Regions from separate parts of the Homo sapiens genome. Here region 1 is linked to region 2. The links come from fine-mapping of genetic effects on gene expression. Tissue or cell type: whole blood. Region 2 holds a variant in brackets; the other region holds the start of a gene. All regions are shown on one strand. Distances are from middle to middle. Region 1 holds the start of MORC2-AS1 (MORC2 antisense RNA 1). Region 2 has its middle 30 kb from the start of TUG1.

Region 1 (2,830 bases), 77 kb after region 2:
GGGATTACAGGCATGAGCCACTGCACCCGGCCAGTCACCATTTTCATCCGGTAACTTGCAATGCACCAGGCCTTACCAGGGCCACTGTTGGGTTCAGCGGACATTTCCTTCTTCAAGCTGGCAAGGCCTCAGACAAGTCACTGCCCATTTTGGCTCCTGTTCCTCCTCTAAAATAACGGAGTTGGGTGATGGCAGAGGCTTTCCAGCTTATTCAGCCTCAGGAGTACCTAAAATTTATCCAGAAGCCCATATGGAAAGCCAGGAGTCCTGGAGCTGCTCTGGTTGAAGCTAGGATGGGGGCCCAGAGCTCCCTGCTGTTCTTGACCCCCAAATCTTTGCTTCCAAGATTCACTGGCCCCTACCTGCTACCTGTAGGCCTTCACCTGCTTACTTGTGTCCGATGTAGGGATTATGGGCTTACTCAGCAGCCATCCTCATGGCCTAAACATTTGGCCAATTTCAGTGTCCCCGAAGGGTGAAGGAGGTCTGGGCTTCCATGGGGCCTGAACTGCAGGTACCTTCAGCACTTCCTGGGGTTCTGGACATGTCAACAGCTGCCCACCAAGGCCTGGAAGATAAGGAGGGCTCACACCACTAGTGCAAACTTGGATCAATGAGAAGGGAAGGATGCGACAGACGTATCCCTCCTCTTTTCTTGTCCCCTCTGGATTCTGTTGAGATGCTTCCAGGGATTCTCCGAGGCCCCTTCCTGCTCCAGTAACTGCAGGTTACTGGGGAAGCTGTGGCCAGCTCTAATCCCCTACTTTTTTTTTTTTTTTTTTTTGAGACAGTCTCGCTCTGTAGCCCAGGCTGGAGTGCAGTGGCGCCATCTTGCCTCATTGCAACCTCTGCCTCCAGGGTTCAAGCGATTCTCCTGCCTCAGCCTCTCTAGTAGCTGGAATTACAGGCGCGCGCCACCACGCCCGGCTAATTTTCGTATTTTTAGTAGAGATGGGGTTTCGCCATGTTGGCCAGGCTGGTCTAGAACTCCCAGTCTCGAGAGATCCATCTGCCTCAGCCTCCCAAAGGGCTGGGATTACAGACGTGAGCCACAGCGCCCGGCCTAATCCCCTACTTTGATTTACTGTCCCTCCCCACATCATTTCTTCCCTTATTGAAAGCTCTGGGTCCTCCCCAATGCCCCACCATGTAAACCAATCTGTCCTGCTGGGTTTGGGGCACCGCGGTGGGCAGGGGAGAACCCGTTTGTCAGAAGGTTCAGAGTTTCTGAGTTCCTCATGCTTAATCATCAGCGGCCACAGCACAACAGTGGCCGAGGGTGGGTTGTAAATTCTCACCTGGCCTAGAGGACGCAGCCACGACCCCAGCGCTTGGCCATCTCTGTAGAGGATTCGCGGGTGGACCATGCTTAGTCTAACAGGGTATGGTTATTAACGCCCGTTATGAACGGTTCATAACCAGCCAACGGTTATGAACTGTGGAGGGCTTCCGCAATCCCGCCACACGCTCGAGGCGGAAGCGACAAGACGCCTGCGTGGTTTTGCTGGCGCGCCGCACGTGCCCGTACCGTGACCTGCGCATGCGCTTTGGAAGCCTCGCGAGCTTCCTGCGGCACTCAGGGTTTGGTGCAGGTGCCTGTGGCCTTTGGGGGTTTCCTCGCGTCTTTTAGGTAGATGCTTCCAGGGATTCTCCGAGGCCTCTTCCTACTCCAGTAACTGCAGGTTTCTGGGGAAGCCGTGGCCAGCTCTAATCCCCTACTTTTTTTTTTTTTTTTTTTTTGAGACAGTTTCGCTCTGTCGCCCAGGCTGGAGTGCAGTGGCGCCATCTCGCCTCACTGCAACCTCCGCCTCCAGGGTTCAAGCGATTCTCCTGCCTCAGCGTCTCTAGTAGCTCCTTACAGGGAGAGCAATGGCCCACTCACACCCGAAACAGAGAAGCGAGGATTTTTTTTTTTTCCTGCAAGCTGCTGCGCATTAATTAAGTCAAAGTGCAGAAGAAATCTTTTCTACCCCGGCTTTCCAACTTTCCGGGGGTCATTAGGGAAAAACATTCGTTGAACAGATGTCCTTAGGGTCGGCGCTTTTATCTCTGAAAGGAAGAACACTTGGAAAGGAAGCTGCGTGTTTTTCCTCTTGCCCGGAAGAGCCAGCCTGTATGTCTCCCTTTTGACCCGAGGCCAAGCGCCTGAAGCCTCTTGGACTTAGTTAACATTAGTCCGTTTTCTATGCGTTTGTCCTTGGCTTGGTTTATGGTGTTTGTTGAAAGGTAAATGTTTTAAAGTTTTGGGGATTCCTATCATGCTTAGGGAAATCAATCCCCTTCTCTCTTCTCCCCTTCCCCCGATATTCTCTTACATTTTGTTGCAATGTTTATTATTTATTTTTTACTAGACAACCTATAGTCCTTATGGAATATATTTTAGTATAAGCTGTAAGGCAAGAGTCAAGCGTCTCCCGCCCCCAGGTGGAAATTAACTTATTCCAGCCCCACTTATTAAATGAGCCTCTTACTAAATGAGCCAACAGGTGTGGACCTGTTGAGTTTGAGATCCCGCTTAGACGCCAGTGGAGACATCTGTGGTCAGTTGCACAAGTGAGTCTGATGTGAGGGGTGAGGTTCTGGCTGAAACTATAATTTTGGGCGTCATCAGCATCTAAATAGATCAGTCTCCCTCACTTGTTAAAAAATGCTTTTCCAGTCTTAGAATGTATTCTCTCACATGAAATATTTAATCGCATTATCCAGTTCGTTCCCATCCCTGCCTAAAAGAAAGTGTTCCATTGGGATTTAAATTATAATTGCATTAAATTTAAATGGAAGTTTTGGGAGCATTGACATTTTTGTGATATTAATCCTCCCCCAGAGGATA
Region 2 (2,912 bases):
CCATGCGTGGTGGCTCACGCCTGCAATCCCAGCACTTTGGGAGGCCACGGTCTGCAGATCACGAGGTCAGAGATCGAGACCATCCTGGCAATGGTGAAACCTCGTCTCTACTAAAAATACAAAAAATTAGCTGGGCGTGGTGGCGGGCGCCTGTAGTCCCAGCTACTCGGGAGGCTGAGGCAGGAGAATGGCGTGAACCCGGGAGGCGGAGCTTTCAGTGAGCCGAATCGCACCACTACACTCCAGCCTGGATAACAGAGCGAGACTCCATCTCAAAAAAAAAAAAAAAAAAAAAATTTATACAAACTTAAGTGTCTAACTATATGGAACCATTAAAAATAGTGTTTTACGAATATATATGTACTTAGAAAGATATATAAATACAGACATTTTTATAATTAAAAAGTTATAAAGTATGTAATAAATTGTACAAATTCAAATATAAAACTGTATGTGAGTACATAGTCAAAGTAACAGCCAGGCGTGGTGGCTCACACCTGTAATCCCAGCACTTTGGGAGGCCGAGGCGAACAGATCACTTGAGGTCGGGAGTTCGAACCTGATCAACATGGGGAAACCCCGTCTCTACTAAAAATACAAAATTAGCTTGGTGTGGTGGCACATGCCTGTAATCCCAGCTACTTGGAAGGCTGAAGCAGAATCGCTTGAACCCGGGAGGCAGAGGCTGTGGTGAGCTGAGATCACGCCATTGCACTCCAGCCTGGGCAACAAGAGTGAAACTCCATCTCAAAAAAAACAAATAAACAACAACAAAAAAACCCACACAGTAACAGTCTGGGCCAGGCATGCTGGCTCATGCCTGTAATCCCAGCACTTTGGGAAGCCAAGGCAGGTGGATCACCTCAGGTCAGGAGTTCGAGACCAGCCTGGCCAACATGCGGAAACCCCATCTCTACTAAAGATACATAACATTAGCTGGGTGTGGTGATGGGCGCCTGTAATCCCAGCTACTTGGGAGGCTGAGGAAGGAGAATCGCTTGAACCTGGGAGGTAGAGGCTACAGTGAGCCAAGATAGCCAGCCACTGCACTTCAGCCTGGGGAACAGAGTGAGACTCTGTCCCAAAAAACAAACAAACAAACAAAATACAAAGTAGCAGTCTGTCCCGCATCTGTTGAGTGATAGGTTTCCATCTTTCTATAATTTCTGGTCCCCATATAAGGAGTAAAGTAATAATGTCTTATGTGGTCATGAGGTGGTAGCTTCTAAAGTTGTCAGGTCATAATGTAAAATTTATTATTATTAAAAATTGCCTCAAATAGTTCATGTTTCATAAAATTCAGTATGTGCAGTCTTAACACATATTGTACCTTCCTTAGTAAGTCCAACTAATTTTCCTACATCAGGAAATACATTTTTTTTTGTTTAGTATCAGTTTGCATTTAGGGGTCAGGTTGAAATATATATACTCATACGTACATATACCTATACATAAACACATATGTATATCTCTATCTCTTTGTCTATGTCTGT[G/C]TCTCTCTCTCTCTCTCTCTTTTTTTTAATTCCCAGCCCTTTGAATTGAAGTTGGGTAATTTAAACTGAACTATTTTCCCCCATAAAAATGAGAATGTATTTTTCTGCAACTTGCTTTTTAAAGTATTTTTCCATGTTCCTTCACATAAATCTACATTACTCTTTTCAACAGCAACACAGTATTTTATGGGGGTGCCATAATATAACTATTCCATTCTCTTATTGATAGACATTTCAGTTGTTTGACTTTTTTTGTTATTATAAATGATGTCAGCAATATCCTTTTACGTATATTTGGCTTTCTTTTATGAAAATAACTTTATGGTTTAAAAATACAAGCCAGGCCGGTGGCTCAGGCCTGTAGTCCCAACTACTCAGGAGGCTGAGGCAGAAGGATCTCTTAAGCCCTTGAGCCCAGGAGTTGGAGGCTGCAAAGAACTATGATGGTGTCACTGTACTCTAGCCTGAGCGAAAGACTGAGATGCCGTCTGAAAAAAAGTCATTGATAGGTTCAAGAAACCAAGGGGCTAATCTGATTAGGTCTGCCAAACTTAACCTGCCCTGCTTGCTGCTTTTGGTCACTCGCTTGTTTTTTGCTTTTTTTGTGGTGGTGGTCATTTTAGACAGGGTCTCGCTCTGTCGCCCAGGCTGGAGTGTGGTGGCCCAATCAGGGCTCACTGCAGCCTCAACCTACTGGGCTCAAGTGATCCTCCTGCCTCAGCCCCCAAGTAGTTGGGATTATAGGCATGCACCAACATGCCTGGCTAATTTTTTGTATTTTTAGTAGAGATGGGTTTCGCCATGTTGCCCAGGGTGGTCTCGAACTCCTGGATTCAAGGGATCCACTCAGCACCTCAGCCTCTGGAAGTGCTGGGACTATAGGCGTGAGCCACTGTGCCCGGCTGTCTATTATTATTATTATTTTACCCAGGTAGCTAAAAGTCACACTGCTTAACACAGTAACGACCTTCACTGACTTCCTTACAGATAACATTTCTGAAGTATATGTTGCCATGGTAATTAATGATTGCTTAGGTTGCTTTTCAGGAGCTTGGGGACAGCTCCTGTCCAGTTCAAACTGGTTGAGACCACTAACCCTTCAACTGGGCATGTGCAAATGCCCCTGAGGTAGCCTTCTGGAATTACAGGGAGAAAAACTCTATCCTCTGATGATGCTAACGCAGCCATTTTCTGAACATGCATCCTATAAAAAGCCATGACCCCAACTACATTTGCACAGATCACCAATTCATTTTTCCTCAATGTCAATCATCTCTTCCTACGCCTTAGACCTCTCCGCTTCTCTAATCCATAAACATTCCTAAACCTTATTTTCAGGGAGGCCGACTTGAGAGCTGTTCTCCCACCTTCTTGCTGGGCTGCCCTGTGAATAAACCTTTTCTGTTTTGCAAAATCTGG

The links.
Region 1: MORC2-AS1 starts here. The variant in region 2 is fine-mapped to the expression of MORC2-AS1 in whole blood (INTERVAL, PIP above 0.99). The same link has a PIP of 0.9 or more in CD4 T cells.

What each region holds. Positions count from the first base shown.
Region 1 is chr22:30,920,984-30,923,813 of GRCh38, reverse strand. MORC2-AS1 (MORC2 antisense RNA 1) reads right to left here and starts at 1,506. Exons shown (of 2, transcript NR_026920.1): 1 at 1,299-1,506. LOC107985544 (a long non-coding RNA gene) reads left to right here and starts at 2,035. Exons shown (of 3, transcript NR_146603.1): 1 at 2,035-2,226.
Region 2 is chr22:30,998,189-31,001,100 of GRCh38, reverse strand. No RefSeq gene overlaps it. Among named protein-coding and RNA genes, the nearest start is that of TUG1, 30 kb to the right of the region's middle. The variant G/C (reference allele first, on the strand shown) is at 1,494.